2 separate regions of the Homo sapiens genome follow, and region 2 is linked to region 1. Evidence: fine-mapped expression QTL. A gene starts in region 1. The other region holds a variant in brackets. All regions are shown on one strand. Distances are from middle to middle.

Region 1 (16,277 bases):
TCCATAAAGGATTTAAAGTCTGTCCATGAATAATGCTCCAGAATCATGACCCCTCAAAGATGCCCCTGCCCACAACCCCGGAGCCTGTGAATGTTCCCTTCCATGGCAATGGGACTTTGTAGAGGCTACAAACTTTGAGATGGAGAGACAGCCCTGGATTGTCCAGATGCCATCACAAGTCCTAAAGGGAGGGTGACTTTCCGGGCTGCAGTGAGAGAGACTCAGAAATGGAAGCAGGATCAGAAAAGACGCATCGCTGCTAGCTTTGAAGGTGGAGGAAAAGGCCGTCGCAGAAGGAGTGTGTGTGACCTCCAGAGGCTGGAAAAGGCAAGGAAATGAATGGTCCCCTAGAGCATCCCAAAGGTAACACAGCCCCACTGCCACCTTGATTTTAGCCCAGAGAGACCTGGGTTGAATTTCTGACTCACAGAACTGAAGGATCATAACTGTGATGTTTAAGGCCCCAACTTTGTGGTGGCTTGCTACGACAGTCATAGGAAACAATACCCCATCCAGTGTGGCTCTGAGTGCTGGCCTTCAGGAGGGGTCACTTCTCCAGAGTCCCTGCAGGTAAAGGTGTCAGTCCTCTCTAACACCTCCCTATGCCCTGAGGCCCCTGGCCCAATGCAGACATGGGAAGTGTCTGATAAAACTAGAGTAAAATGGGTGAAATCAGTAACTGTTAAGAATTCTCAACATGAAAGTGATTTAATAGGATATTAAAATAAGTGCAATTTATTGATCATGGTTGCACTTCTCAGATACTTTGTAAATCAATATTAGATATTTGTAGGAGACATCATGAGAAAGAAATCACAGCCATTTGTTTGCTTTGTGACCTTAGACAGGTTTTTTAAAGCTTTTCAACCTCAGTTTCCTTATCTATAAAATGGGGACCTTCATGCCTCCCTCACTGGGGTTGTCAGGATTAGATAGTGTGCTTGGCCAGTGGTAAGAATGCAACAGATGATAGCTATTAACAACTATTGTGTTAATAATAAAAACTTACAATGATATGTAGCTAAACCCATTTGCATTTTAAAAATGTTATTTGTAAATAGTATATTTTTATCCCACGCCTTTCCTTCAAGAATCATCATTAACTGCCAACTTTGTATGAGGTGTCAGTGAGATACTCTGGGGAAGTCAAAGAAATAATTTTGGTGGTTCATGCCTATAATATAATCCTAGCACTTTGGGAGGCCGAGGCGGGCAGATCACTTGAGGTCAGGAGTTTGAGACCACCCTGGCCAACATGGTGAAACCCCATCTCTACCAAAAATACAAAAATTAGCCGGGCATGGTGGCATGTGCCTGTAGTCCCAGCTACTCAGGAGGCTGAGGCAGGAGAATCACTTGAACCCAGGAGGTGGAGTTTGCAGTGAGCCGAGATCATGCCATTGCACTCCAACCTGGGCAACAGAGTGAAACTCCATCTCCAAGAAAAAAATAATAATAATAATAATTTTGTCCTGAATCAGTTTATGATCTTAAAATATCATATGGACATAAATTACTAGAAAACAAGGCATTTTTGGCTATACGCCCCGGCAGAGTTTCGGAGAATGAGAGGAACTCCAAGGAAAGAGAGCTTATAGCATCATGGATGGGAGGGAAGGCAATGCAGACCACAGACAGGAAGCTACACGGGATTATTCCTCAATGCAGCCTACTCTCCGCTGGATTTGCATTGAATTCACAGGAGAAAGCCATCCAGTGCACTGCAGAGTGAAAAAGAGATTATGTTACAGTGTCTCTAAAACATATCTTCCTATTAACCTATTTGTTCTTTAGTGAAGACTGTGATTTTAAAAAAAGCAACATCCCACTTACCAGTACTCTAGTTGAGAATTGCTTTATATTTTAGAAGTCTTCCCTTTCATTTTTTTTTTAATTTTATTTTTGAGATGAAGTCTCACTTTGTCGCCCAGGATGGAATGCAGTGGCAGGACCTCGGCTCACTGCAACCTCCGCCACCTCCTGGATTCAAGTGATTCTCCTGCCTCAGCCTCCCGAGTGGCTGGGATGACAGGCACGTGCCACCATGCCTGGCTAAGTTTTGTATTTTTAGTAAAGATGGGGTTTCACCATGTTGGCCAGGCTGGTCTTGAACCCCTGACCTCAAGTGATCCACCCACCTCGGCCTCCCAAAGTGTTGAGATTACAGGCATGAGCCACCGCTCCTGCTAGAAGTCTTCCCTTTTAAAACATGCAAGTAAGCACTGAATGACTAGGCTGTAAGTAACTGGAGCCCTCACTCAATGGCAATCTCCTGCTCAGCACTTTACTTTCAGAAAAAGGTAGCAAATGCAGGAAAACAAGCAAATTTTATTAACTTTTTAAAAAGTAATTTGAGCATGGCTCTGACTTAGTACAGATTCTTCCACTCAATCTTCTACACACTTAACACTATAAAATGAGGATGCATGTTCAGAATGATGACTCAGAGACATTATGAGGCACCCCACATCAAAAAGGGACTCATTTCATTTACTGTACTGTGCTTTCCAAGGTGAGATATCTGCCTACAATATACGTACATATATTTTTAATTTCAATTTATGTTCCAGCTGAAGGGAATTTCTGGTTGATCTTTAACCAACACGAAAATTTAATTTAGCAAAACAACTCCTTCCTGAGGCATTCTGATTAATTGAGGGTTATTGTAGCTAACATAAATGTCTCATCCATGATGTTCACCTAAGGTGGATTTCAAAATGGCAATTTGCGTAAAATTTTAGCTTTTCTAAAGGTACAGAGCTCTCTTAAAATTGTTCCTATCTGAAACTAACTCTACCCTGCTGCTAACAATCAAAAACAATGTAAAATTGTGATCATTTTTATTTTTCGGCTCAAGCACCTGTTAAATTTTAAAGTTATGATGTGTAACGTTGATCACCACAGGAAGTGTTTGACAAAACACATACTGAAAAACAGGTCGGTGTTTAAGTGCACTTCCGTTCCTTTTTTTTTTGATACCCTAACTTACATTCAACTTTATAGTGTTACTTCATCTGTTTTTCCTTTATTTACACAATTAGATAAAGCATAGTTACTTCCTGAAGTCCAGATCACAATTCTTAGAGAGAGGCAGGAGAATCGTATTGATCATCCATAGAGGACAGCCCACTTTTTTGGGGGGTGTTTATGAACTTTAACTCTTTGTAGTGGTGGTTTGTAAAAAGTTAATCCTGCCAGTCACTGAGAGATGGGTTTCATGTGTTTCTAAGCTGCCCCTTCTTGGGTCTGAAGAGGTAGTGAAAAGGTACTTTGTAGTTTGGGTATGAAATCACCGTGCCGTCTTAAGACTCGTCTCTTCCCCATGTTTTCATGTAGGTGAAATGAAATGCAAAAATCTATACGTCCACCGGTATCTGTTTTGAGATTCTCATAGCGAGTTCCTAATGGCCTCTTTTTAAGTCTCTTCACTAATGCTCTCTGTCCTCTTTGACACACTCGTAAGTGTGGAATTTCCATCCATCGTGAAAGATTTGCAAAGTGTCTGTTCTGTACTGGGTAGGCCGGAGAATGGTCGGGGCTGTACAGGAAAACCAGGCTTGGCTCCTGCCCTCAGGGCGTTCATATCAACGCTGAGATGAATGATACAATTAAAGAGCAATAGGCTCATTACTCCAGCAGGGTATTTATAGTAGTAATAGCAACTTTTCTAGCACAGAGGCACGTGAGGGCAGGAACTGTGGCTTGCTCATTTGTGTACCTCCTGCAGTGCCCTCTCCATGTAGTAAGTTGGCAATAACTATTCATTACATTTAACAAATGTACAAAAACAAAACCGTTCATCCCTCACAAGCCAGTCCTCCCCACTTTTCTGTTTCTGATCTCGGCACCGTTGTCTTTGCAGTTTCCCACATCCAAAGCCTCAGGTTATATTTGTGCCCCATTCTCTTTCTCTTTGGTCCCCCACATCCAAGCAGCTGCCAATTCATTTTGAGCCTCCCCTTCCATTTCTCCTAAAACACTTTCCCATCTACTCATTCCACCCCAGTTGGGGTTATGAACTCTCTTGGAAATGCGAACTTTTGTCTGCTCTTCCTGTCTCCAGCTGTCCTTCCGTGCATGCACCAAATGAGTGTTCCTGGGCTGAGCCCAGATGATGTCCACACTTAACTGCTTTCCTTCTTGGCCTCGCGATCCGCTCTGTGCAGCCTCTGCTCCATTTAGGCAAGTGGGCCATTCTCTGTCCCTACAGGGTCCTCCCACGTCCCCCTGTCTGCCTCAGAGTTCTGAACTCCTGCCGCTGGGAATTTTCTCCCTGTCTATCTCCACCTTTCAAAATCCTACCATTTGCATTATTCAGGGGTTTGGGTTCCAAAAAGAGGAAGTGCCTCTGGGTACCTTAAGCAGAATAGGAGAATTTACTAGAAGAATATCAAGTAGCTCACAGGGGAACTGGAGAGCAGAAGGGGTGAGAATGGAGCTGGCTAATTCCTGTGGGAGGGATGTGCTGGGACTATTTCAGCCATGGCAAATTGAATCTCACCCTCTCTTGTCCTTTTCACCCTCTCCAGTTTCACAGTCTTGAGTGGGAGGGTTCCATTGGCCAATCCCAGGCTGTTCACTCTCACAGGGCTTCTGGGAATGGAGGGACCAAGGTGCCTACTCTGCCTCCCTCCAGGGTTCAGACAGGCTTCTCTAAAACCAGGAAGGGGCTAGAGAGGGGGGCAGCCAAATTAAAGGCAGCTTCCCACCATGTAATCTCTCAAGGTCATTGCCAATGCCACCACCTTTCATAAAGCCTAAAGCTTCTCCTGATTCTCTAGACATATTTTCTTTGGTACTGTTCATATTTAGTTTTATATTATAGTTATTTGTATGCTGGTTTCATCCTTCCTTTTGGGTCTTTCCTCTCCATTTCTCCTAAACTATTTTCCCATCCTTTCACTCCACTCCAGTTTGCGTTATAACCTCTCTGAATAATGCAATCTTATATCTGCTCTTTGCACATCCAGGTGTTCTTTGGTGTCTGCACCAAATGAATGAATCCTGAAGTGGATCTTATAATGCCTTACAAATAGAACTACACCAGATATGCTTAATTGAATTGAGGGTTACAAGAGAAGGTCATGAGAAAGGAGACATGAGTGTTTACCATGTGCTGAACACACAGTTGAGACATGTTTATATTATCTCCTTTAATTCTCACAACGCTTTGCAAGAGCACTATTAATATCTGAGGCTCAGAGAGGTGAAATGACCCCAAGGCACAGGCTCCAAGGTAGGCTTTGAGCCTCTGACGTATGACTTGGACAACACCCTCAACCTTGCTTTGTGTTTTCCGTGAGTCTAAGGAGGGGTTAGAGAAGGCCTTGAATGGAGCTCTGAAAGAGAAGGACGGGGACAGGGAATTCCTAGCTGCCTTCACACCACAGAAGGCTGAAACTAGTGTGACTCAATGTGGCACTGTGGGCAGAGCTGAGTGACTGAAGCAAACAGCTTATACTGGACAGAGGTAAAAAGGAGATTGTATGGCAGGGCTAAGTTGGAGAGGCCTTTGGAAGAGAGATCATAAGATGTAATGCTGATGTGATTTTAGGCAAAAGTTTACTGCACCTCCTTCCACTCCATGTTTTTTATGCTTTCAATACTTTGTGATTGAAGACAGTAAAACAGATGTGGACACATTAATGGAGTAGAATGCAGAAAAACCTATATATTTTTAGATAAAACATAAGCTTCAAAGAAATGTCTCCCCCATGTTAAGCCTTGCAGTGGGTTGGATGTTGGCCCCAAAAGATATGTTCACCTGGAAGCCGAGAACGCGACCTTATTTGGAAAAAAGGTCTTTGCAGATGTTGTAAGATAAGGATGTCGAGATGACATCATGCTGGATTAGAGTGAGCCCTAAATTCAATGATACTTGTCTTTACAAAAAGAGAGAAGGGAAAGGACACAGGGAACCAGGTTGTGTGAAGACAGAGAGGCAGAGGTGGGAGTGACACTGCCACAAGCCAAGGAATGTCTGCAGCCACCAGAAGCTGGAAGAGGCAGGGAAGGATTGTTCTCTACAGACTTTGGAGAGAGGCTGGTGTCTTGATATCAGACTTCTGAACTCCAGAACTTTGAGAAAATAACCTCTGTTTTGTCACCTAGTTTGGGGTCATTTGTTAAGGCAGCCCCAGGAAACGAACACAGGCCTCTAAGGGCTAAATACCCCAGCCTCTCTGGGGGAAAATGCTCAGTCTTCAGTCATCAGATAACTTTTGAGGAGACTGTGGTGGGCAATGGGGAGCCATGAGAAGTTCTTGAGCACAACCAGGGACAAATGGAAACAATTTACAGGAAGGTTAGGATGACATTGATGTCCAGTGTGAGTCTGAGGGATTTAAGAAGGAAGTAATGGGAGACCAGTTGGAAGGCAGTAGTTGTGGGGAATTGAACAAGAGTTTTGGAGTCAGGTACATGCTCTGACCCCAGTTCTTTGATCCACTGTTCAAGTGATTTCATCTGTAAAATGGGTATAATACTATTGTGTGTGGATTAGAGATGATATATGTCAAGAATTCAATCAAGGTACATTATAACTATTGCTAGAATGATGTATAAGTTAGGATGCCAGTGATGGAAATGGAAAGAAAGGTGCAGTGGAAAAGATGTTTAAGAATCACCAGGACTCAGAACCATGGGGGTAGTCTGCAAGGGGTCTTGGTGTCATTCAGCGCTCTCCCAGCTTTTCTTGGGGAGAACTCGGAGAGAGGGAAGGAAAAGCCAAGATAACAATGAGATTTCTCCCAGGAGCTGAGGTGCCTGGTAGACTCTTGGCCAGGCCTGAAACCATGGGAGGAGGAGCTGGTCTGGGGAGCAGATGAGTTTCATTTTGAACATGGTGACCTAGAAGAGATGCTGCGCCATGTTTAGGGGGTGCAGATTAGCTGGGGAGCTCTGCAGATTAGCAGGGGAGCTCTCTAAGGCTACAGGTCTGGGGGTTAATCAATGAAGGTTTAGACAGGGAGTGTACAAAAAACAATCAACTCTCTCTTTAAAAAAAAAAGGTGCGTATCAGAATAAAAACAAAGGGCCACCATCTGCCTTGGGGATATCACTTTTACAGGGTGGGAAGACAACAACCTCTCTAGAGGAGGCAGATGGGCAGGTCAGAAAGGTAAGAGAATCAGAACTGGCTGTGTTTGATGAATGAAAAGATGATGGTGTTTCAGGAAATAGCAGAAATGCCACATATTTCAGAAAACTCCACAGGATAAAGATTGATAAAGGGCCACTGGATTTAGATAGAGAATGACATCGGTGACTTCTAAAGAATCAGAGAAAGAAGAGGCATGCAAGAACCACGATTCAGTGAAAGTTTACAAAGCAAACAAGCTACAAACTGGGTCAATATTGCTATACTTATTTTGAGTAAATTAATCTAAAATTGGGCAGACTGATGACTAGAATTCTTCTTTTCTTATTGTAAAGCTAGATATTAGTAACACAAAACTTGCACAAAAGGATGAACTGAAGTAGCTTCTTTCACAAGGTCAAAACAAGGAAAAATGAGGCTGTTCTGATTCCCTGAGCTTGTACCTGATTCCTGCTCAGTGTACTGTGCTTCCTTCCACTTACTGAGCTATTGAGGGCTACCTACTGCCAGGGTACTTCACATAGGAGGTAAGTAAATATTATCTCCCCATATGACAGATTTTAGAAAGGCTGAGGACCACCTGTGCAACGTTACACAGTTCAGGAAGTCAACAGTCAAACACTCACCTGTCTGACTTCAAAGCTACGCTGACTCTAGTTACCTATCCTTGGGTACTTCCCTTCTGGAAGGAAGCAGGAGATGAGTGAATCAAATAATACAGCCTTGTAACCTTGGGTAAATTATTATTGCCTTAATAGTAAGCAGAGACCAGGAGCCTAAGAAAGAATCTCATTAACATGGATGCAGGCTATCCTGCCAGGAAATCAGAATCATTTGAATATTAGGATTTCCTTTGGGAAACCATATGGGGAGGAGAAAAGACATCCGGATGCATGTGTCTGTGAAAGGGAAACTTGTGTCTTTCCCCTTGCTCTTGGGTTTTCATCTTCCAAGTTTGTTTATAGGCTAGCCACAACTCGAGGCTGGGTGAGCTGAACGGTCCCATCATTAGCGACACTCCTTCTAGGGGCACATTCGGGCAGCTCCTCTTCGGGTTCTGCCCCCACGGGTGTGCAACCAGGATTCCACAGGCTGGGGCTGGCCTGGATGCCTGGGAGGCAACAGAGGTCGAGTTTCTTCTTCTTTTAGGAAGTGCCTCGGACAGGGATGATGGACTAAAAATGTGTCTGGTTGGGAAAGTAAATAGATGCAAAGCAAATAAATAAAAATGCCCACAAGCAATTACAGGGAGGAAGTGACATTTTTATTTAAGTCACTTTTCTGATGGACAACAGGCCTGCTTAGCTGAGTGCCGTGGGAATGCTTCCGGGAGGGGGGCGGCTGCCCAGCAACTAGAGCTTCGTGATAAGAACAACGAACAAACAAAAAAGAGGACGCAAAGCCCACCCGGCAGTCATCCCAGGCTGGAAGTTGCCGTCTGTGTTTTCACTCTCCTCCCCACCCACCTACCCTGCCCCCCACCGCCCGCACGCAATTTCGGGCGTGGGGACCCTTTCCTGCCCCCGGCGCCCGGCCCGTGCTGCGCCTCCAGAGCGGAGCGTCCCGCAGCCCCGCGCTATCCCGGCGCCCGTACCGGGACCCGGGCGCGGAGCCTGGCGACGACGGGGGGCGCCCCAGGTGGGTCTCGGGTCCCCGCCCCGCGCGCCCGGGCCTGGGCCGGCCCCTGGGCGGCGTCACGGCGCGGCCGGGGAGGAGCGCGGGAGGAGGAGGAAGAGCGCGGAGGAGGCGGGCGCTGCGCGCCGGGGGAGGGTCGCCGCCGCCGCCGCCGCCGCCGCCGCCGCTGCCGCGGGGATCGTCAGGCCGGAGCCGCGCGGCCGAGCGGGCGGCGGGCGGAGGGGAGGGCTTGGCGGCCGGGAGGCTCGCGGCGCCCGGGCCGGCAGGGTCCGCCCGGGCCGGCAGCGTCCGCCCGGCGGCGGGAGGAGGGAGCGGCGCAGACAAAGAGCGGCGCCTGGGCGGGCGCAGCGCGGCCACCGCCCCGGGACCCGCGCCGCTGCCCTCCGGCTCCGCGGGCGGCCCACGGCGAGGTAAGCGCGGCTAGGCGGGCGTGGGGCGGGGGCCACAAACTTGGGGCCGTTGGGCGGAGTTGGGAGCGCGGCGGGGCTCGCGGGCCGGGGTGCGCCCGGGAAGGGGCCAGGAGAGCGGGTCCCCTCCGCGCCCCTCCGGTGCTCTCGGCCCTGCCGCGGCCTGGGCGCCCCCGACCGCGGACTGCCGGGCACCTCCCGGCTCTGCACCTTCCTGCCCGCCTTCCCATCCCTAACCCCCACCATCGGGGGCCGGCCCAGGGGCGGGGACGCCAGCCAAGGGCGCGGGCGAGGATCAGGGCAGGGGGCCCGGCTGCGGGGCCCGGGGACTGGAGACCCCCGGGTGCGCAGGCTGCGCCTGGCCTGCAGGCGGGCGGCCGGCACGGAGCTCGGGGCTAGCGTGGGACCGTGCGGTGGCCAGGGTCGCCAGGGCGCGTGTGCCGGGGAAGAATAGCCGCGGATCGCAGGGCCCCGGCGCAGGGACGGGGGAGGCCGCGATCGGCCGGGAGAACTTAACCGTGTTTATTACAACTATTTATGTTCGCGCACAAAGCTGCTGTCACATTGCATAAAGGAGGTCCTCGCTTCGGCGAAGGGAGCTTTTGTGCCCGGCTTCAGGCTCTGCGCCCTGCCCCAGATTTACAGGACTCTAACAGCCACCTGAATGAACCAAAGTTTCTCACAATCGCTCGGCTCTCTCGGTTTTTTTCAGGGCGATTTAATCACCGAGTGCTTTTGGAAAAATTTGATATGTGAGTTTTAAGGCATGGAGGGTAACTGCCTTATGAGCACAGTTAGCTTGGCATTGTGTGGAGGGGTTTAATTTGCAAAACGCTTTAATTTGTAGACAATGGGGATCTCTGTGAAGGTCTGCGGTGGATGCTAGGGGTCATTGGCTGGTGGACCCCAGGCACCTGACTTAAACTAGTATTGTAACAGCTTCAGGGACAAAGCCGAGCGTGCGTGGAGTCGGCCTTGGCCACTTCACACAATTCAGGTTGGCAGATTCCTCTTTATTTGGCTTTGTTTATTTTGCCAACAGGTTTAAGGCTGCTTCTGCCAAGTTTGCATCTGCATAATGGGATGAGCAGGCCCCAGTGTGGGCAGGAGGGGGCCTAAAATATCGCAAGGGCCAGCTCCGTCCCTCGACCCAGAAAGAAACAACCCTGAGAGGCCGGTGGGCGTGGCTTGCTGGGACCTACAGGTAGGGGAGTCCCTTCCTGGCCCAGGCGCAGTCCCCGCTTCTCGGAAGGGATTTTGTGTAGGAATGAAAGTGATTCAGGGTGTTTTTCATGCCTCTGTTTTAGATGTAGTTATCAAGTCTCAAAAGTGACTGAAAATGAAATTAACCTGGGCCGCTTTAACTTACCAAAACGGAACTGTGCGTGTGAACACTCCCTCAATTCACTTTGCAAGCTTCATAGATAAGCAGGTGAATTAGTAACAGGATTCAAGCCTTGCGAGTTTTACGTAAAGAGAATGGCAGTCATCGGACACGTGGAGAAGAAATTGACTTCACCTGGAGATTGGGCTAGACATGGAGGTTTTTTGACGTTTGGAACAGGGGTTTCCTGAGAAGCAAGTGTTAACCTGCTTGTGAAGAAGTGAACACGAGGGAAAATCCTACCTCAGTATATTCTGCCCTGGAGGTTGGTTAGATGTAGTTTTGATTGGAGAAGGTGGCGGAATCTTAGTGGTCTTCTGGCGGCTACTTGAGGCTGAAATGGAGAACTTTAGGCATAGGAAGCTGTGGAGGTGCCTGGCCCACTTCCTGTCCCGGAGGCCTCGCCTGGATTCTGAGCTTCTTTCCTGCTTCATAAACATTCAGGGGGGTTGGTCATGAAACACTGGATGAAATTGGGTCACAAATTGCCATCAGGAAGAGTTGGCTGCTGCATAACCCCCTCTGTCCACTTGTGGAGAAACTGACCCTGTTAACCGTCGGGCTTGCTGAAGGTGCCTTGCAGGTGGCTGTGCTCAGTTTTCATGCTTTGTGTTTTGCTTAGGACACGCTGCATACTTAAATCTTCTTCATCCTTGCTCTGTTTGACCCTGCCATATTCCCAGGCTTTGTCATTTACATTTTCGGTTATTTAGCTTTTCCAACAAACAGCAGATCTTATGTACACAGTACTATATTTGAGAAATGCACTACCATCCATATTAAATACACCGGAAATCTTCCTTGCATGTGCACAGACTGGATAACCTTTTAAAATACCCTAAGACTCCCGGAATGGCGCAGAATGCACTGGAGTCCTTTACTTGATCAGTTGCACTAGCTTAGTTTGCCCTGGATAGACCAGGCTGCGAGGCTCTATGGGACACCCATTTTTCTAACTGCTCAAACTGGCTTGCCGTGTGCACTGGGGGAGACAGGGCTTGCGGAAATCATTCTCTGACATTAAAAATGAGGCTTAAAGACTGAAGAGCTCAGAATTGCTTGCTGGAACTACAGGGGAGGATGATGAGTGATGTTTGGAAAAACAAGTAAGCTAACTTTTTTCACAAATGAACTGGAAACTCCCTACAGCTCACTTCAGATGCTTAGGAAATTAGTTTTCCCATCCAGAGGGTTTGCGAGTGGCACTTCCAAATGGTTTCTGTTTCCTAAAATGAGTGATGGAAATACTTCACGGCACGTTTTCAAAGGGCCTAAGCTAAAATGTGATTTCGTGTATCTTGTTCCATGCCTGAGTTAAGGCAACTCAGAAGAAGGTCGTGACGGCCTTTTAACGGGCTATCAAAAGTGTGCAGCTAAAGCAAAAACAGTTTTGCATTTCTTTAGGCCATTTAGTAGCACAATTAAAAAATTAGACTCTTTTCTTTTCCTGCATTTTCCTTTGAACATTTCCCAAAGTATGTTTATTTCTAAAGGTAAATGAACGTTAGCAAGTATTACCTCTGCCCAGTGACACACATCCACATGTGTACTGGCACATACATTCCTACCTCAAGAATCTTAGTCCTTGAAACTGTGGAAATGAAAGTTATTTTGATTGAGGTAGCAGTGTCACAGTGATGTCATACGGTGTCACTGTCCCTGACCAGCCTCTGTGTTCCCTCTCAACTCCTTGGCTCAGTCTCCTCCGTGTCCTGAGTTCTTACTCATCCCAAGGGTCGTCTCTTACTTCTTTTCTTCCCCACATCTTATCAACTCCAAACTAGAGGGGATGGCATCATCTTTAAACTTCCACAGCACTTTCTTTGTGTCCCTGATTTGTCATCTGTGACATTCTTTCCTGCAGTTGTTTTTTTTCTTTTTTTAAGGCAGGGTTTCACCCTGTCACCCAGGCTGGAGTACAGTAGCATGATCACAGCTCACTGCATCCTCGAGCTTCTGGGTTCAGGCAATCTTCCCACCTCAGGCAATCTTCCCACCTCAGCCTCCGAGTAGCTGGGACTACGGGTGTGCACCACCATGCTCAGTGAATTTTTTTATTTTTATTTTTATTTTTATTTTGTAGAGACAGGGTCTTGCTGCTTTGCCAAGGCTGGTCTCAAACTCCTGGGCTCAAGTGAGCCTCCTGCCTTGACCTCCAAAAGTACTGGGATTACAGGCCAGAGCCACCATACCCTGCCCTATGGTTTTTTTGCCTTCATCTTTTCTTTACTAGATTCTGAACCGCTTGGGGGCAGACTGGTCTTGCCACTTATACACAATGAGTGTGCAACAAATACTTATTGAATATGTGAATAATGAGTGCCCAGCCTGTTAATATTGGGGCTCTAGCCTCCCACTGAGATTCAAGTGGTAAGAGACCTCCAGCATTCTTGTAAATCTCAGAACTTCTGTCTACTGTGGAAGGCTTTGACCTCAGGATGTCCAGACAATGGGAGAATTTGGTCTGTTGGCCTCTCTATTTGGCAAATTTTCTGTCATGTGAGTCATTTGTAGTCCTGAAGCTACATTTAAAAACAACAACAGCAACAACAACAACAAAAAAACAAAGCCAACCCCATACTCAACTGTATTACCTGGTGGGCTGGCTGAATGGTTTACTTTTGTAGGTTAGTCTGTTCCTATCAACCTGAATTCAAAACGCTGGGCAGACCGTTTGTGATCCTGGCCTGGTAAGTTAGTTATTTGTGTCACCCCTTCTTTCTACTGTTGTATTGGTAATGTTTTTAAGAGAAGAAGCTTCAAGTGCACTCAGAATTTTAAGTATTGCAGTTGCTTCTTTTGAGACAATTTTGGAAGCTGGGGTGCTTACGTTGCCAAATTGTTAGTGAAGACCGAAAATGCCATGATGAGAGAATGACATGTACTAATGCATGCACGCTCATTCATTGTTTGCAAAGTCCTCTTCACATACACCATCATATTTAATAGTCGAATAACATGGTGCACTTGGTTCTGGCCCTCATTTCTAGGTAGGAGACTGGGGATGACAGAGCTTGAATTTAGGTTAAGTCCTTCTGCAGGCCATACATGAGGAACACCAACGTGTTGCTGGGTAGAGTTGTTTTTTTGTGAGGCAGTTTACAGAACACAGTGTCCTTGGGTATCTGCCTTTGCCGTGTCGCAGCTGTGTGTAGATATTGGTGGAGCAGATTCTGGATGTGAGTTGACTGAGGTTGAGCGGTGTGAGGGGAGGCCGGCAGGAGCAATGTCAGTCTCTCTTGTCCCCACATCCTGGTTATGGGCCAGGGTTACCCTGGAAAGCCTCCTCAAGTTCAGAAAGCTTATTCCTGTTTAGTGCGTGTATTAGTCAGCTCCAGCTGCCTTAAGAGAATAACACACAGAGGCCGGGCGCAGTGGCTCACGGCTGTAATCCCAGCTACTCGGGAGGCTGAGTCACGCGAATTGCTTGAACCCAGGAGGCGGAGGTTGCAGTGAGCCAAGATCACACCACTGCACTCCTGGGTGACAGCGTGAGACCCTGTCTCAAAAGCAAACAAACACACACACACACACACACACACACACACAAAACAACAACAACAGAATGGGTGGCTAAAGCTGCAGACATTTATTTTCTCACAGTTCTGGAGGCTGGAAGTCCATGACCCCGGGGCCGGCAGGGCTGGTTTCTGGTGAGTGTCTCTTCCTGGCTCGTCTTCTTGTGTCCTCACTCACGTAGCCTTCCTTCTGTGAGTGCACTGAGAGAGAGGTCTGGTGTTTCTTCCTCTTATAAGAACATCTGTCCTGTTGGATGAGGGCCCCACCCTTATGGTGACCTTTTTTAACCTTATTTATGACCTTTTTTAACCTTAATTGCCTCCTGAAGCGTCCTGTCTCCAAATATAGTCACTTAGGGGTTAGGGCTTTACCATATGAATTTAGGGTGGACAATTCAGCCACTCCCAGTGTGTCTGTCTAGGTTCCACAACAGGGCTGATGCTTTTAGGAAGACCTGGTGCTCCCATCATCCAGATCTGGGATCTCTGTTTATTTGGGGACACCTACCAGGGATGGTTAGAGTAGTCACAAGTAAGGAGGGAACGTCAGCTCTTTATATATTGGTTGTAGCACCCCATAACAGGGAACAAGCCTTGGTGCTGGCCTTCCAAAGGCTGGAAAGGTTTTAAGTAGAGTGATTGAAGAGAGAGAAAAATCTTGACTTGATTTCATTTATGGAAACTTCTCTTCAACTTAGGTAGGTAGACACTTATTTGGGGGTTGGTTTGTCTTTAATTGAGACCATGATAAAATATCAGTGATATGCAAAGGAAAGTTTTTTCTGAACCCTGGATGAAGAGAGCAAAGCAAGAGGTGGGGCCAATGGCAGCCAGGGTGGAGAGGCCGTCTCCTCTGAGCCTGCCATCTCTGTGATCGTGCAGTCTTTGCCACATGAGCAAACATCCCTTAGCAGAATGTGCATGACGGTGGTGAGGTGCACCCTGAGCGTGGCTGGAATGTTTCTGACCTAGGCCATTTTGCCTTGTTCAGACATAAGGCAGGGGCAATGCCTGCATGACTGACCTCCCTCTAGCTCCAGATCTGTATGTTCATTGATGCTTTGTTTGCTCATTCATTCACATTCATATGAATTATCCAAGTTCTTAGTGGTCATTTCCACCATCCCAAACCATTTGCAGCTTCTCCTGCAACCTGCCCGCCTTCTCAGTTATATTCCCCATCACCGACTCACTCGGTTATCCTTGAATTCTCCCTCAGCTCCCAACTAGTTATCAACCCCTATTGATTCTACCTCCAAAAGATCTAACATCTCAGCCCTGCTGTCCTTTTTCTGTTTCCCCTGGACATCAAAACCACTTTTTAACCATTCCTGCCAATCCATCCCAGGGTGACTGCACCCTGACAGTCAGGTCTGGCCATGACCTGCACACGGTGGCTCTCCATCGTACTTGGGTCAGTGACTCAAGTCCCCAGCATGGCAGTCATGGGCTTGCACGACTGGGCTGCCTCTCTGTTTCTCCCAGCATCTAAATATCCCCTTCCCCATATACACACATGCTGAGCTACAAGTCATCTGTGGCCACCCACTGATGGTTTGCTAATTGTGATAACAAAACTAAGTTTATAATCAGTTTGTTTTTAAAGACTCTCTCCACTGGGACTGGTTCAGGGTTCTCCTGTGCAGTAATGGCAGGGCTACCCCACTACAGCTTTGCATGGAACTGAGCATGGGCCCAGCTCTCTGTCATGGGAGGAGAAGAGACTAACTGCAGAAAATGGTGCGTATGTGTGTTTTAATATGGACTGTCTCCCTGCAAATGCCATTTGAACTGATGGATTGTCAAGAGCAGTGCTGACCCCTTGAAATACAATGTGAACCACAAATGCAAGCCCCAGATGTAATCATAATGTTCTGGTAGCCACATTAAAAATGTAAAACCAAACAAGTATTATTAATTTTCATCCTATATTTTGCCCAATATATATATAAACTCTATGTGTAATCAACATAAAATGTAATTAATAAGATAACTCATATTCTTTTATTTGCGTGAGGGCTTTGAAATTCAGCATATAGTATATACGTTTACTGCACCTCTTGGCTGCCTCTCGCTGCATTTTGATTGGCCTTGGCCACACGCGACTAGTGGCAGCCTTGTTGCGGAGTGTGAGTCTATACACTTTTCATGATTTAAGCCTCATTTGCTGTCTGTTTTCCAAAGTTGAGATAGCTAAAGAGACAAAGTGGAAACAATGTAGAATAATTATAATG
Region 2 (16,277 bases), 31 kb after region 1:
AGTGAAGAGAAGATGTGAAGAGACACGCTTGGGAGGAACTCTTCTCACCTGAGGACACCTGCCCAGGTGTGTCACACCTACTCTTATGGTCAGCTACTCGTATGGTCAGCCAGGTTCAGGCCCACACACACCAGTGCTGGGTTCCTGGTGCCTGCTTATCTCTCTGGAGCCAGGGAGGCTCCGACCTGGAAGCCTGGACCCCCGTCTGTGTTTATCTCATAGATACCATTCCATATTCCCAGGTATATGCTTGTAATGTTATTCATGTCACACATACATGTCATGTCATTGAACCAAATGCAATTTGCTGTTAATGTAATACTGCTCGTGACGTGGCCTACTTGGATGTCTGATATGAGCTTAGAAGCCTAACAGGAAGTTCACCTGCAAAATTGGACCCTCCCTATTCCCTTGTTTCCACAATAACCTAGTTAGTATTTTGTGAAAGGTGTTCTTTATAAGTGTTACATTCTGGTGCACTGATGATACAGTAATTGATTTAGGAATATCTGTTACTCTTTGTGGTTACAGTAGAGGTTGGCAAAGTGGCCCATGGACCAAATCCAGTTCACCTGTTTGGGTGTGAATACAGTTTTATTAGAACCCAGCTGGGCTCATTCATTTCCACAGCATCTGTGGCTGCCCCATGTTGCAACAGCAGAATTGAGGAATTGTGACTATGTGGCCCACAAAGCCTGAAATATCAGGCCTTTTCCAGAAGAAGAACCGCAGCCCCTAGTGTGCAGCAAGGAACAGAAATCAGGAGAGCTGCATTGGAGTCCCTGCTTTGTCCCTTTATTGGCGCGAGGTTTGAGGTTTCCGTGCCCGCACCTGGGAAAGGAGGAGGAGGATACCCATTGTCTCAGGGGATTGCTAGCATGAAATTGTGGGACATACTGGGTGGTTCCCAGCACTTAATATGCACTTAATAAATACTAATTCCTTCCCTCTCTATTACTCACATCCCCGGCTCTCATCCTTAAGTAGTTGCTGTCTTTCTACATGTGAAAAATTTGAGACAAAAAAATGGACATCAGTACTTGTGTTTTCAGAAATGAAGACATCTCAAGCAGCACTGTCCAGCAGAAATAGAACATAAGCTGCCAGTGTGTGCTAGATGTGTAACTTCACCTCTCCCAGTAACCACATGAAAAAGGCTACAAATTTTAAGTCTTCTGTAGTCCAACATAACCAAAATATTTCAACATATACTCAAATAATTGCTAATGCCATTCATTTGCTTTCTTTGCCTGTCTGTAGAGTCCAGTGTGTGTTTGCCCTCACAGCAAGACATAGCTGGACTCACCACCCCTTGAGTGCTCAGTGGCCGCGTGTGGCCGGTGGCTGTGTTATCAAACAGGTCTCTGATTCTCTGACACCACCTAGGTGTCCCCTAATTTGGTTCAGTTCTGACACTAGCTTTTCAGGGTTCGTGCCGGCCTCACAAGTTTTGAGGGCTAAGTCCCACAAGACCATCCCCATTTCCGTCACCAGTTGCATGTCCTAAGCCACCTGTACTTCTGATCAACTGGCTGTAAATTGGGGTTCCCATGACCTCACTTCAGGTTCCATAATTTGCCAGGACAACTCACAGAACTCAGAAAGGCACTTTGCTTATTGTTAGTGGTTCCTATAAAGCTAGGTTGTCCAACCCGCGGTCCAGGATGGCTTTGAATACGGCCCAACACAAATACTTAAACTTTCTTAAAACATGATGAGTTTTTTTTGAAATTTTCTTTTTCTCATCAGCTGCAGTTAATGTTAGTGTATTTTATGTATGGCCCAAGATGATTCTTACAGTGTGTGTGGCCCAGGGAAGCCAAAAGATTGGACACCCCTGTTTTAAAGGATGCAACTTAGGAACAGCCCAAAGGAAGTGACACATGGGACGAGGGGTGGGAGTCCCCATGCCCCCTGGGGGAGACACCTCCTAGTGCACCATCCCAATGAGTTCATGACGTGGAGGCTCCCCACATCCCATTTTTCAAGAGTTTTTGCAGCCCAGTCTCCTGGCCCCCCACCCCTCCCAGAGGTTGGGGTGTAGGGGGTGCAGAAAGTTCCCACTCTCTAATCACACGTTTTGTCTTTCTGGCAATGACCAGCTCCCCTCCAGGCTATCTAGGGGCACCCCCCAACCCCACTGGTCACCTCATTAGCATAAGCTCAGGTGTGGTGCACTGGGGCTCTCTATGAATCACTAAGGGCACTCTTGTTGCTCAGTAAATACCAAGGGCTTTAGGAGCTCTATGCCAGAAACCAGGGACCAAGACCAGAGATCTTTTTTATTATCCACCTGGGCAGCCCTGTCAGCCTGCTGCCCCGCCCCACCCCTCCCCTCCCCATCCCCAGCTGGCTGCGCCCTATTTAAAGCCCTCCTCTCAGTAAAACAGCTGATGCGTGCCTATTTTACATTCTTTTCTACCCTGGGTCTGACGAATCATGACTCTCACTGTGCTGGTAACTCCCCCGTTCTTGCTTCTCAGGAAGCAAATGTAGGAAAAATATAGTAACATTTCTAAGGAAGCTTAGAGATACAAAATGTTTAAATGTAGCACAAAAATTGTGACTCTACTTATAATAACGTACAGAAGAATAACTCCACAGTAGAAGTTAGGCATCCATGGCTGCAGGTTTTCTAAGAAATGGGACGTGTGGGTGACCTACTGCACTGCCCACTGCCCTCTGGAGGGAACCATGGGGTAATTAGAGTCATTGGCCAAGAAGGGCCAGGGGTCCACGCAGCTTCCGCCCTGAGGAGTTGCACTGTGCAGTACAGCCAGGCGGCCACAGGAGCCACTGTGGCAGGGAATGCATGTGTCAGTGTGTCAGGCGTGGTCAGTAAAAGGAGTTGTAGAAGGTAAACCGGAGAAAAACTCAGATTTTAATCCCTCGGAGTAATCTTTGGCCTCTCCTCCTTCCGTGTGTGATGTTTCTTTGTTTTTAATTTTTTGACCTTCTGCTTTTTGATTCGGGATTTTGGAGCCAGAATGCCTTGGCCCCGCCATGAGGTCTGACTTGTGCTGGCTACTTTACCCTTGGTGCCTCCATTTCCTTCACTGGAAAATGGGTGATTGTGCAGAGTACAGTGAGTCAAACCATTGAGAGTGGTGCCTGGCACACAGCATTATTTAAGTATTTTTGCACTTAATTTCATGTAACATAAAGCACTAATAAGTAAAAAAAAAAAAAAAAAAGAAAAAGGTATATTGCAACAAGAAAAAGGATGGTGCTGTGGACATGGGGTGTGGTTGCTAAAGGAATTTCTAAGAATCAGACTTCAAAAAAATGTTAATATTCTGGACAGAATTCTTTTCTACAGAATTCTTTGAACTTTAAGAGCATGATTGAAATTTCTGTTACAGTGTGACTCCAGTTAGAGGTAAACTTAGTGGCTCTATCTAATGCTGAGATCTTTTTAAAGGATGATGTTTGCATCTGGCTTTGATCTTTTGAGAGGTAGATTTATGTGTCCTGATTAAAAAGTACAGTGCTTTTCTTACAACTAAGAAGGCCTGAAACTTACTGTAAGGTTGTGTGTGTGTATGCGAATGTGTGTTTACATAACTGATCATATTTAAAATCATTTTCTTAGAAGTAGAAGGCTATAGAATATCTGTCATTTTTAGAGTGTGTAGATATGCTCTAGAAACAGACCACTGATCTGTAAAATGATCAGGTCAGTGATTCGGATTTGATTCTTGTGTGAATCACAGAGTGCTATATTGCCTAGGATATGGATATCGATATTTAGTAATCTGAATTATTTTTCATTATTTTAAACTTAAAGATCTTTAACAGGTCAAGAAAAATAATACTTCTGAAAATGTATTTCTACCCCTTTAAAGTATTTCAGATCCAGGAAGTCATTTTGGGTTAAACAGTTTGGCATTTCAGTTTGCTTATCATTTCAATCTTCAGTGTTTGGCAATTCTGATGTTAATATCATGATTTCTTTTTGTTTGTTTGTTTGTTTTTGCTTTTGTTTTTGTTTTGAGACGGAGTCTCGCTCTGTCGCCCAGGCTGGAGTGCAGTGGTGCGATCTCAGCTCACTGCAAGCTCTGCCTCCCGGGTTCACGCCATTCTCCTGCCTCAGCCTCCCGAGTAGCTGGGACTACAGGCGCCCGCCACCATGCCCAGCTACTTTTTTGTATTTTTAGTAGAGACGGGGTTTCACTCTGTTAGCCAGGATGCTCTCGATCTCCTGACCTCGTGATCCGCCTGCCTTGGCCTCCCAAAGTGCTGGGATTACAGGCGTGAGCCACCGCGCCCCGCCCAATATCACTATTTCTATCCCCTTTTATATTTTCCATTCTGACTTTCTAGTAAAAAAACATGAGGGCTGGCGGGGTGGCTCACGTGTGTAATCCCAGCACTTTGGGAGGCTGAGGCAGGTGGATCACCTGAGGTCAGGAGTTCAAGACCAGCCTGACCAACATAGTGAATCCCCGTTTCTATTAAAAATATAAAAATTAGCTGGGTGTGGTGAGGGCGCCTGTAATCCCAGCTACTTGGGAGGCTGAGTCAGGAGAATCACTTGACCCGAGAGGTGAATGTTGCAGTAAGCCGAGATTGGGCCACTGTACTCCAGCCTGGGCGACAAGAGTGGAACTCCCTCTCAAAAACAGAAAGACCTAATTTAGACAAATATTTCAAGAAGTTTCCCATTGTTTCTAATCATGTCACTTAGGTAGAAAGTAATGTTCTTTTCTTATCAATAGAAGGCAGCTTTTTTAAAGCTGATGTTTCTCAAATAGAGGCTACTGAGATTTGCTTTGAGTTCATAAAGCTTTCTAGAAAAAGCATGTACCTGGGTTGACCGCTACTGGCAGCTTTTTCTAACCATTGTTTTCTTCTGTCTGAAGTAAAAACCCTCTGGTGTGAAAGCTGCCATTCCTTTGTGAGGCCTGCCCATCACTCAGATCTATATTTTTCTCCGCAGCTGTTCCCAGAAGCTTCCTCAGACTGACTTCCTCCCTCCCAGGGCTGTTCCAGGGCCTCATTTTCCACTCCCTCCCAGACACCCTTCAAAATTGGATATTGTCGTCAAAGTGTCCAGGAACTCTTCAGCTCTGAGTCTTTGAGAACTCAGCTTGTAAGCTGCGTCCTGCCTGTGGAACTGCCGATCCTGGCTCAGCCGAGGGCAGTGTCTGAAGGATGGCGGAGGGGGTAGCGTTTGCAGAGGCTGAGAATGCTGTGTTAGCAGTTTCCACCGGTGTCTTCCCAACAGCCTCTCGGAGCCTCCTGGGAACTCTTGATCTCTTTGGCCCTGAGTTTGAGAACCATAGATTTATTTAGACTGTTGATTTTTAACTTTCTCAAGGCTCAGCTCATTATTTGTTTATTCCCAAAGGAGAGCCTTCTGCCCCATGGAATAAACAGCACTAAGCATCCTTCCCATTTGCCTGTGTTTGGTCAGGATAAGAACCTAGAAAAAGGAAAATGTTCCTTTCTTTGTTCCCGGGGAATGTGGGCATAGTCCTGGGTTTCACTTTAGCCCACCTGATGTCCTGCCTTTTAGATAGCTGATCTAGCCTCACAGATGTGCTTCTCCAGAAGTGGCCGGATCTCTGGTCCTCCTCCCTCCGCAGCACTGGGGTCAGCCGCATGTTACTGATGCTGGGTTAAACATTGAGCCAGTACTTGCCTGTCACTGTTGGCTCAGCATGCAGTCATTATTGCAGAGGACATGGGAATAAGTCAATGACAAAAACACTGTGCTTCTGACTTCAGGGAGGCTCAGAGGCATTAGTGACCTCCTACTAGAGTTTTTCCCCGAAACTCTTCTTTCTGGAATTGACTTCTTCTCCCCTCCCATTTTCACAGTGAGTGCAGCTTCCTTTCATCTGGGAACCAGAGTCCTCCCTGTCCTTGCCCTGCATCTAGGTCTCCTGGTCCTTCCTTCACAGTGTGTTCCTGGCGACCTCCCACATCATCCCACGTGTCCACATTTTTTTTTTTTTTTTGAGATGGTCTCCCTTTGTTGCCCAGGCTGGAGTGCAGTGGTGTGATCATGGCTCACTGATGCCTTGAACTCCTGGATTCAAGCAATCCTCCTGCCTCTGCCTCCTTAGTAGCTGGGACTACAGGTGTGTAGCACCCCACTCAGCAAATTTTTTTTTTTTAATTTTTCTGTAGAGACAGGCCCTCACTGTGTTATCCAGGCTGGTCTGTAACTCCTGGCCTCAATCCATCCACCTGCCTCAGCCTCCCAAAGTGTTGGAATTACAGGCATGAGCCACCTACCATCTGGCCGTCACTCACCTTTTTGCCAGTGAGTGCCAAGGATATTTTTCTTTAAGAAACCAACATCAGCAATTGCAGTTGTTTCTCGAATCCTCTAACACTGGCTTAGTCCCCCTTGTCCCTCTCCTTTCCAGCCACCCGCTTGAGGCAGACCTGTCTTCTCGCCGTCTGGTACACGTGCCGGCCTCCATCAGTCCATGCACCTTTGCTCATGCTGGTTTTTCATCCCTGGAATGCCTCCTTGTTTCCCACATGCTCAGCTCAGGGCCATCACCACTGCACCTGGAACCTGCTGGGCAGGTAACTTCAGTGTCATAGAAAGACCCCATGGTGTCTGGCATCTGTGCTTCATACTTCATGTCTTTCCTTCCCCTTCCCCAGTCCTCTGTCAGCACCCAATACCATAGTATCCCTTTGACACTATGGTTCATTTCTTATATGCTAGAGCATCCTGGTTTATGGATATTTTTTCTTTGGAAGACTTGAAGCAGCAGTCACCCACTCAACAACTATTTGAGCACCTACTCTGAGCCAGGTGCTATTTCAGGCCCTGGTGATCCTGCGGTGGAAAAGGAGCACCCAAGTGCTTGCTCCCCTGAGCTTGTGTCTGGCAGGCTGCCTGGAGAATCGGTAGTGGTGTGGACTGTTGTCTTTTGTTCTTATGCAGTGTTTTGGGTAGTCCAGCAGTCTTTTCTTTAACTGTTTTTATTTGCCTTAAACAAGACAAAACCCTCTGTTTATAAGAAAGATGTCAGAGGTACCAAAATGAAGTGTGCATCTGGAAGTCCTCAGGTGGAAGATGTGGATTTTTCCAGCTATCTTTTTTTTTTTTTTTGAGACGGAGTCTCGCCCTGTTGCCCAGGCTGGAGTGCAGTGGCACAATCTTGGCTCACTGCAACCTCTGTCTCCCAGGTTCAAGCAATTCTCATGCCTCAGCTTCCAGAGTAGCTGAGACTACAGGCACGTGCCACCACACCCAGCTAATTTTTGTATTTTTAGTAGAGACAGGTTTTCACCATGTTGGCCAGGCTGGTCTCGAACTCCTGACCTCAAGTTATCCCCCCGCCTCAGTCCTCTAAAGTGCTGGGATTACAGGTGTGAGCCACTGTGCCCAGCCTCCAGCTATCTTAGTAACAGATGTTTTAGGTACCTGAGTCCTCCTCACAGTAGCTGAGCCCTTACAGCAAGCCTTAACTTGGCTGTGTGATGATGGTCTGACTGGTCTGACAGATGCTCAGTATTTTCTGTGTTGGCAAAAATAAAATTGATGTATTGGTCAGAATCTGGTGGCCCTCCCTGTGAATGGACCCCTTGGGCCCTGGTGTGTTGAGCCCCTGGAACAATGTATTTGGGTCCCAGAGTCAGATTTGATCGTCTCAATTTGGGCAGGTGTCCACTGCAGGTCTGGTCATGTGGCTGGGGAAGGCACACACACAACGAACTCTAGACCTGGCTGTTGGGGCCTGTCCACTCTGTGGTGCGGTAGGGAGAGGAGGTGTCAAGTTGTCTGGGGCCTGGATGACGAAATCTGTGTTCCACAAGTACACTCAATTTTTAACTCACGTTTATTTTGTAACTTTTGTGAAGCATTCATTGGACACTGAGTACTGGGTATCATCTATAAAGCCACTTTTCTTTTTGAGTTATGTGTTGAAAGAAATGTGGCTTAATGAGCCGTGTAGATGTACAGCTGAAAAAACGCTTTCTAAAATCATTACCAGTCCAGGCACCGGTGGCTTATGCCTGTAATCCCAGTGCAGGAGGATCAGTTGAGGCCAGGAGCCTGAGGCCAGCCTGGGCTGTATAGCAAGGCCCTGTCTCTACAATGATAATAATAATATAATAATAATAATAATTACCAGATGGATTCATGTAGAAATTGAGTCACACCATGGTGTCTGAATACCTTGTCATCTGATGTTAGCTAAACTTTAGTTTTTAAAAAATAGTAATAAGTGGTATTTGTTGAGGGGTGGTTTTTACGTGTTAGTCATGTTGTAAGTAATTTGCACTGTGTGTGGCATGTGGGTGCCTAATCAATGAGAATTTGCCTGTTTCTTTGTGGATTTTTAATTTTTCATGATGGGAAATTTCAAAATTTAAGAATCCTGAATCCTGGTGTGCCTGTCACTGGACATCAGTAGTTAACTCACCTCATTCCCTTCCCTGATCTCTGGGCTCCCTATTAGATTATTCAGATTCCAGGTAGATAGATAATTATTTTTAACCGAAATTTAGTTTTTAAAATTTAACTTCAGATTGATCTTGTTTGAACTTAATCATTTTTCCTCTGACTTGCTTATTTTTTTCAGTTGTCATTGTAGCACATTGATGTGTTCTTTCTTATCTCCTTTTGGGTTTTAAACATTATTTATGAATTTATGCCTTAACTTAAATTGTCTACAGCTTCTGCTGTAGACAAAGGAGCTGTTTGTTTCATGCAACCTTTCAAGTGAAGAATAATCAGCTAATTACAACTGTTTGAAAATTAGCTTCCTTTTTGTTTGTTTGTTTTTCCTTCCTACCCTGGGAGCCTGGCTGGCATCACTGGGAGCACCACACCTCCCGGTGTGGTGAGCTTGGGAGCTACCTTGATTCACTTGGATTCTTTTAATGTGTATTTGTGTTTTTGTGCACTAATCAGGCTCATTATTTTCTCATCTGTAAATGAGAAACTTGGAATAGCTGGTCATCAAAAAGTTCCTTTTTGATTTTGTGGTTACCAAAACCAAAACAAAGCACCACCACCAACAAAAAAAACAGTGCGAGGGATAATTGTTGACCGTCAGTTGCTTAGGGAGTTAATGACTTCCACCTGGGAAATAATTTGAAAAAATGTCCCCCTTGTATTTTGGTTTGGCCCAATTTGGTGTGGCCTGGAGCATGTCCCTTACTGCAGGCCACCTCTGGGGGTGTGGGTGCGGAGCAGGCCATGCCTGGCTGGGGACCTCCCCTAGGAATCTCAGTGCTCTGCCCTGCCATTCGCTCCCACTTCCTGTACGTTGCTACAGTGTCCTGGGTGGGGACACCCCAACTTCC[G/A]TCCCAGCGACAGAAACCGTACATCCTGGGTTTTCTGTAACACTCAGTTTCTTACCTTTTGCCCTTTATTTCTATAAGTCCTCCAAATATCTTAACATTTCAACATCTTCTGGAAGCAGCCAAAGCACGTTTGGGGGAGGGAGTTCAGAACCCCTGTCACCATGCATATACCAGGTGGGCCCATTTGACTGGGACAGGGTGGCCGCCCTCCAGGGTGTACAGTCACCCAGCTGTGGTTGGGGGCTGCTTCCTGTGCCATGCCATCTGCTAGCCTACCCACCCGTGGAGGGCTCCTGCATGCTGCCAGCCTTGGGTTGTCCCCTGGCCTGGCAGGGGACCTCTATGACATTTTGAGCATGATCAGAAAAAGGAACTTGTGGATTTTCTTTTAGGGTTAGCTGGTGAGCAGATGATGCCAGCTAGCAAGCCACCTTCCTCCTCCAGCCAGCCTCCCTCGTTTTAGCTCAGCCATCCCAGCAGGGCTGGACTTAGTCCAGGCTCCGGGCTCCCAGCTCCTGGCTGCAGGGATCTTTAGCAGTCGGACCACACGTGACTATTCGAGGGTACCATAGCCCTCTGGTTTCTTTCTGGTAGTCAGTACTGCTGACCTCACTTTTCAGATAATCTCTGCTCTCCTCTGGCCTTGGGGTTCTTCCTGACCCCTTGGAGCCTCTCTCAGTAAATGGAAACCTCCTAGGGGTTTCATATAGGCAGAATCTAGTATGGGGAGTGGCTTCACGAGAGTGTGAAGGGCTGGACAGCCAAAGGCATCTTCCCCAGAGATCAGAGACTAAGAAAGCTGCCGCTGTCCCTAGGTCTGAAGGGCAAAATGAGGCCTTGAGAGTTCCCAGAGCCTGAGAGCAGGTGCTCTCCTCACTGCTGCTGCCGCCGAGCAGGAATTCTGAGCCCACGGCCCTGCGGCTGTCACTGGGCACTCCACCGATGGCAGCTGGAACCTTCTACTCTCGTCACTGCTGCTTTAGGAACCTGCTGTCCCCATAGCCACGAGCCGGGGTGTTGCGGGGGGGCAACGCTTTGCCCTTCCTCCTGCCTTTTAATGTTGCACCTGGTTGTGTCTTTGACAGAACTTAACCAGAATCCAGCTGGCAAGGGTAGCTTTCAGGTACAGAGGAGGGCTGGGGCAGTCCTCACACCAGGAGGCCACATCTTGCACACAGACTCCTGAGAGTGTGGGTGGAATGAAATGACCCAGTGCTCACCACCTGGCACGGCGTGGGTGGAGAGTGGTAGGTGCTGTGCATTTTCTGTATGGATCAATGGAAATGGGATATTGATAATCATGCGGATTATACCCACACACCAAAATGGAAAAACAAAACAAATGAAAAGTTTAACATGACCTGCTTTGGCCAGTGGAAATGACTATAAATGACTTCAGTTGCAGCTGTTCTCCGGGTAACAGTCTGTGGACACCAATGCGCACAATTCCTATCAAGGTCCTGTGTGTAGAGCCACTGTGGACACTGTGGTTCTCTGGTGCATATGTTGTGGGTGGAGAAGCAGACCACTTGAAGCCCTGGTAGGAACTGTTTGCTCCTGTCAAGCAGGAAACAAACACGTGCATCTTGAAAATGCCGAGCTCCCTTTGCAGTTCTGTGCTCGTATTGAAGAGAGGATCGGTACTGGGGTGACAGCTCACAGGATTCCAGCAGCAGCACCTTGGTTTCGCCTAGCCGTTCAGCCTTTGCCTGTCTTCTTGTCATGGAAAGTTCTTTTGTTTGAGACCTGGACTTTGTGAGTCTCTCCTAGCTCCCTTATTTGCACCTGCCTTTTCTCCTCACCTTCTTCAGCTGTGCTTGGAGGAGCTGCCAAAGTGGCAGTAAAAGAAACCCCATTGAGCTCTGTGAAGTGAGAGAAATTTGTCCTAAGGACAAGATGTGTTGTGAAGGAGATGTTGGCAGGCCTCTGGGACTGGGTCCCGGGCTTAGAGGGGGACTGGGGACCTAGAAAGCCCCCTGCCTCTCAGCTCTATCCCTCTGCACATTACAGACTGGCCGTCCCTATCCCAGCACATGTGGTAGTGACCTTTGCCAACATCCTGGAGGCATGTGTCTCCAGCAGAGGCTGGAGCCTTCAGGATCTGTTCTGTGTTCTAGCCTTGAGGAAAGAGCTGCTTTGGCCCAGTTTGGTCAGCTGCCCACTCTGACCACATCTGCTGACCATCCTCTGTGGCGTGGGAAGTGGTGGTGTGTAAGAACACACCTGCCCTTAACACTGTGTGCATGGGGACCAGGGAAGGGCGGTGATGGCAGAGGGAAGAAGCCCTTGGTTCTGGGCAGCCTCTCCATGGGGATTTGCCGGCAGAGTTAACTCTCACAGAGTAATGCAGGATGCTGGTGGCTGCGTGAACCAAAGGTGCCCCTATTAACTGGAGTTTCTGCACATTCCTCCTTAGGCTGGGAAATCATGCCCTTGTTACTGCACTGGTTATGTGTATCAATTGAGATAATGGTTATTTTTTTCTTCTTTCATTTCTTATTATTTTTGTAGAGACAGGATCTCACTCTCTTGCCCAGGCTGGAGTGCAGTGGTGTGATCATAGCTCGCTGCAGCCTCAAACTTCTGGGTTCCAGTGATCCTCCTGCCTCAGCTTCCCAAGTAGCTAGGACTATAGGCACACACCACTATACCAGGCTAATTGAGATAATGGTTATTTTTTTTTTCAAGAGCTTTAAGAATATGCTTTAAGAATATCTTTTTTAAACTTGGAAATTCAATATTTAAATGTTAAAACAAATAATTGAGAATAATTTTCATTAATAATCCATCATAAGGCTGGGCACAGTGGCTCACACCTGTAGTCCCAGCACTTTGGGAGGCTGAGGCAGGTGGATCACTTGAGGTCATGAGTTTTTGGCCAGCCTGGCCAACATGGTGAAACCCTGTCTCTACTAAAAATACAAAAATTAACTGGGCATGGTGGCACATGCCTGTAGTCCTAGCTACTCTGGAGGCTGAGGCATGAGAATCGCTAGAAACTGGGAGACAGAGGTTGCAGTGAGCCGAGATTGTGCCACTGCACTCCAGCCTGGGCAACAGGGCGAGACTCCGTCTCAAAAAAAAAAAAAAAAAAGAATCCGTCATAAAATGTGTTTATTAAAATCACTCCTGAAGAAAACAGAAAACACCTAGACTTGAGGCTTTTAATCTTTTTTAATTAACTAAAGGGGATACTTTAAGTTGATTGCCATGTGACTGTTATATATAGAGCTTCAGTCTGTCTGAATATGGCTGCATCTCTGCCACCTACCAAGTGGTGGGTGGCTGCGTCCAGCTGAACTTGGCTTCCTGGAGCTGGGTGCAGCCTCCTGGCTGCAGACCTGAAAAGGACTGCCCATTCTTTGTGCTTTACACTTGGCCTTGTGGGCAGATGGAAAGGAGAGCTTGCTCTCCGCCCACGGGAGACGTATGCAGGTGGAGGAGAGGAGGAAAGAGCTTTGATTTTTTTTTTTCCCACTAATCAGCTTTTGAATTGAGCCTCTTGGTCAGACCATGATTTAAAACGCACACTCACATACATATACATAGTAATTCCCTAGCAGAAATGTAGCTTTGTAGAGTCCTCACGTTCTGTATGATGGATTAATTCCCTTAGTTATAGGAAGGAGAAACTGATATGGGGAAAACAGCCTGAATGCCATAGCCTACGAGACCGCCTTCACCCTCTCATTCAGGATAGCGTGTACATATCCACATACTTCACAGCTCAGCGAATTCTCAAGACCTCCTGTGTGTGCTTCCTTGGGTTATTTAATTCAATTCTACTCTTTTCATAAACTACTCTAATTTCCGTTTTTCCAGTTTTGCCTTTACCTTATTCAATGGCATTATTTTAACTGAGCATATTTTGGACGTACTAGAAATGAAGCATATTTCCTTTGTTTTAAAATTTCTGGTTGCAAGATTAATCAAGAATAATAAATATTTATTGTAGAATATTTGGAAGGTTTTTAAAGTGAAATTTCTATTAATAAAACCATTGCTTCTCAGCATCTAGATTAAGTTGGGACCTGATAGTCATAAATATTTAGATGTCTGTCACATTTATTTCCATAATATGGGAGAGAGATATATACACACACACACACACACACACACACACACACACACACATTCATCTAAAGGACACACACACATACTCTCTCCCTTTCTGGCTCTCTCATTTTCGTTTGGTATCTGGGTTAAAATTCTAATGTTCATCCTCAAATCCTGCTTCTCGCTCATGTCCTGTGTCACATCCATATAGATGTTGAATAAAGTGATAACCACATTTTTGTCATCTATACCTGGGCACTATTGAGAGTGGGAGGGGTGCTGTCTGTAATTATGCTGAAACATCAGTCACCAGTCAGAGCCCCTGGTCACTGATGTGGTCTGAATGTGTCCCTCATATGTTGAGATCCTACCCCCCAAGGTGATGGTATTTGGAGGTGGGGCCTTTGGGAGGTGATTAGGTCGTAAGAGGGGAGCGCTTGCAAATGGGATTAATTTCCTTACGGAAGACACCCCAGAGGGCCCCCTCACCCCTTCAGCATGTGAGGACACAGCAAGAAGCCGCCGTGTAGGAACCAGGAAGGAGGCCCTTACCAGACACTGAATTTCCTGGTACTTTGATCTTGGACTTCCAGCTTCCACAACTGTGGGAAATAACTTCCTTTGTTTATAAGCCACCATTCTGTGGTATTTTGTTACAGCCAGCCAAATGGACTACCACAGTCACCCAGCCTTGACTAAGTGACCCTCTCTTTTCTCATTGCCCGAATCTAGATTTTGTCTCTCACCTGGTCGTGGTCTTCCTGTCTTCTTGCTTTCAGATTTTTCTCCCTCCCACCCACCTATTCCGGGGTTGGCTTTCAAAGATACAGATCTAATTGTTTTACTTCTCTTCTTATAAACTATTAGCTTCCCATTTCCTAGAGGTGCCTTTGTGTTGTCAAAGCACCTTTAAAATCTGATCTTTGCTCCACCTTCTACCATTCAGCCCTTGTGAATTTTATGAACATGATTACTCTAGGTATTCCCAAGGGAGCCGTGCACTTTTTACACCTCTGTGCCTTTGCAGGTCCTGTTGCTGACACAGGGGCAGCCTTCTCCCATCTCCGCTTCCACCTCCACCACTCATCCCTTCCCACACTGCAAGACTTGACTAAATGCAATCTCCCTTTTGAAGCCTTCAGGATTCCCCCAGCCAGAACTAGTGACCCTCCTTGGCCTTCTAGTCCATGTACGTCTGTTTCGTAATATTTCTGCACTCATTCCTGGAAGGCAGTACAGCCTAGCAGTTAAGATCTGGTTTGCTGGCATGAATCATGACCTGCCATTGCCATAGTGTGACTTTGGGCTGGCAGAGGTCTTTGTGCATCAGTTTTATTATCTGAAAAATGGAGAAAATAGCAGTCTTGTAAGGTAGTTGTTAGGTTTATAATAAAGAGCAATGCATGAAAAGTACAGAGCCTGTGGCTTGGCAAGTGATAATCCTGCAATTTATGTTGTCTGTGACAGAGCTGTCGCCTCTCCGCAGTACGAAAATTTGTAGACATGTCTGTTTCTCCAGTTGGAATGAGTCTGTGATAAGGACTCTGGCCACGTAGTGATGCTCATTAGGCATTTGCTGAATGAACTGGTATACGTGCATATGTATTCTTCCCTCTTTATTTCTTGCCGTAAATGCTTTTAACTGAAATAGGTACATACAGCTGTCAGTTTCTTGACTATGAAGTTGAGAATGTCCAAGTGAGTCCAAATTACCTGAAAACCTGCGGCCCATCAGGTCCCTCAAGCTGAGGGAGGAGCTCCTAGACAAAGACCTGGTTTCCCAGGTTTGAGGTCCATTCCTTCCTTACTCTGTTCTTACTATGACTGCGGGAAGTTGCTTTTGGGCTTCCGCGAGAGTGGGAGCCTATCACCGATCATCTCTTTCCCCTCTCTTTATAGGAGTAAGGGGACAACCCTCCTGGTCTGGCTGTAGGCAGGCGGGGTGGCCGGGCCCAGGGACTCAGGGTGGCCCTTCCTTCTGGTGTAGATGGATGGATTATCAGGCACATCCTGCTGATGGCTTCCACCAGCCCATGGGGATTAGTGATCTGCCTTCTCTCTCTGCCACCAAAAATCTCCCTAAAACTAGTTCCACTCTCTCCACAGCAGGTGTCAGAGTTGGGTTGATGGCCATTTGAGGACTTGAGAAGAAACAGTCTATATAATGAACGCTCTTTTCTTAAGTATTAAAGTTACTTTAAATTCTACACAAAATCTCACTTGAGGAATGCTGGCTATGTGAAGTGTCTTATGTTTTCATCCTCTCACTCTTGAACTCCATGCATAGGTAGTATGTGGTTTTAGTACTTTTTATTTTGTTAGAGCAGTTTTGTTTTCATGGCTAATTTAGCTCTCCTCATGCAACGTCAAATGATAGAACCTGATCGTTTCTGAGAGTGGGGGATCCGGCCCGTTGAAATCATTTGGCAAAATGGGCTGCAGCTGCCTGTAGAGGCGAAGTGGATGTCGGGGAGAAGAGGAGGTTGCAAAGGCTGTTAGGCTTGTGCTCAGCTCTGGCAGCCACAGCACCTGCCTCTCAGAGCTGGCTTCCAGTGACTAGTACTCACTTACTGTCCCCAACGCTCCCAACTGGAGAGGCGTAGGGGGCAGTTACTCCAGACACTTGTGCTCACCGGCTTGGCGAAGAGGGTGGCAGCCTCACCTTTATTTCCGGTGTCATAACAAGCCCCATTTGCAGCTGAGTTGGTCGACTATCATTTGCAACAGGTAAGCCTTAAGGCCAGAGCCTTTTTGGGTACCTGGGATATAACCGTGGAACAAGATAGATGGGGAAGCTGCCTTAGAATAAGAGTTGCAGAAGGCCAGAGCCCTGGGAGGTGGTTTAACTTTCTCTGCAGCACTGCTTTGCTTTCTGCCGCAGCAGCTGAGGAAGCCAATTTAACCTTGAATTTTCTTTAAGATGATATGTAATCTTTTGA

Evidence for each region. PIP is the estimated chance that this variant, and not a neighbour inherited with it, causes the effect.
Region 2: its variant is fine-mapped to the expression of NCK2 in whole blood (TOPMed, PIP 0.92).

The regions. Positions count from the first base shown.
Region 1 is chr2:105,735,995-105,752,271 of GRCh38, forward strand. It overlaps NCK2 (NCK adaptor protein 2), which reads left to right and starts at 8,918. Exons shown (of 5, transcript NM_003581.5): 1 at 8,918-9,144. RefSeq lists silencers at 8,569-8,888, 9,079-9,138, 9,249-9,638 and enhancers at 10,009-10,078, 10,179-10,228.
Region 2 is chr2:105,766,949-105,783,225 of GRCh38, forward strand. All of the region lies in intron 1 of NCK2 (NCK adaptor protein 2), which reads left to right. Among named protein-coding and RNA genes, the nearest start is that of NCK2, 30 kb to the left of the region's middle. RefSeq lists enhancers at 2,285-2,787, 2,788-3,290, 9,577-9,676, 9,737-9,846, 10,957-11,457 and 1 more. The variant G/A (reference allele first, on the strand shown) is at 9,283.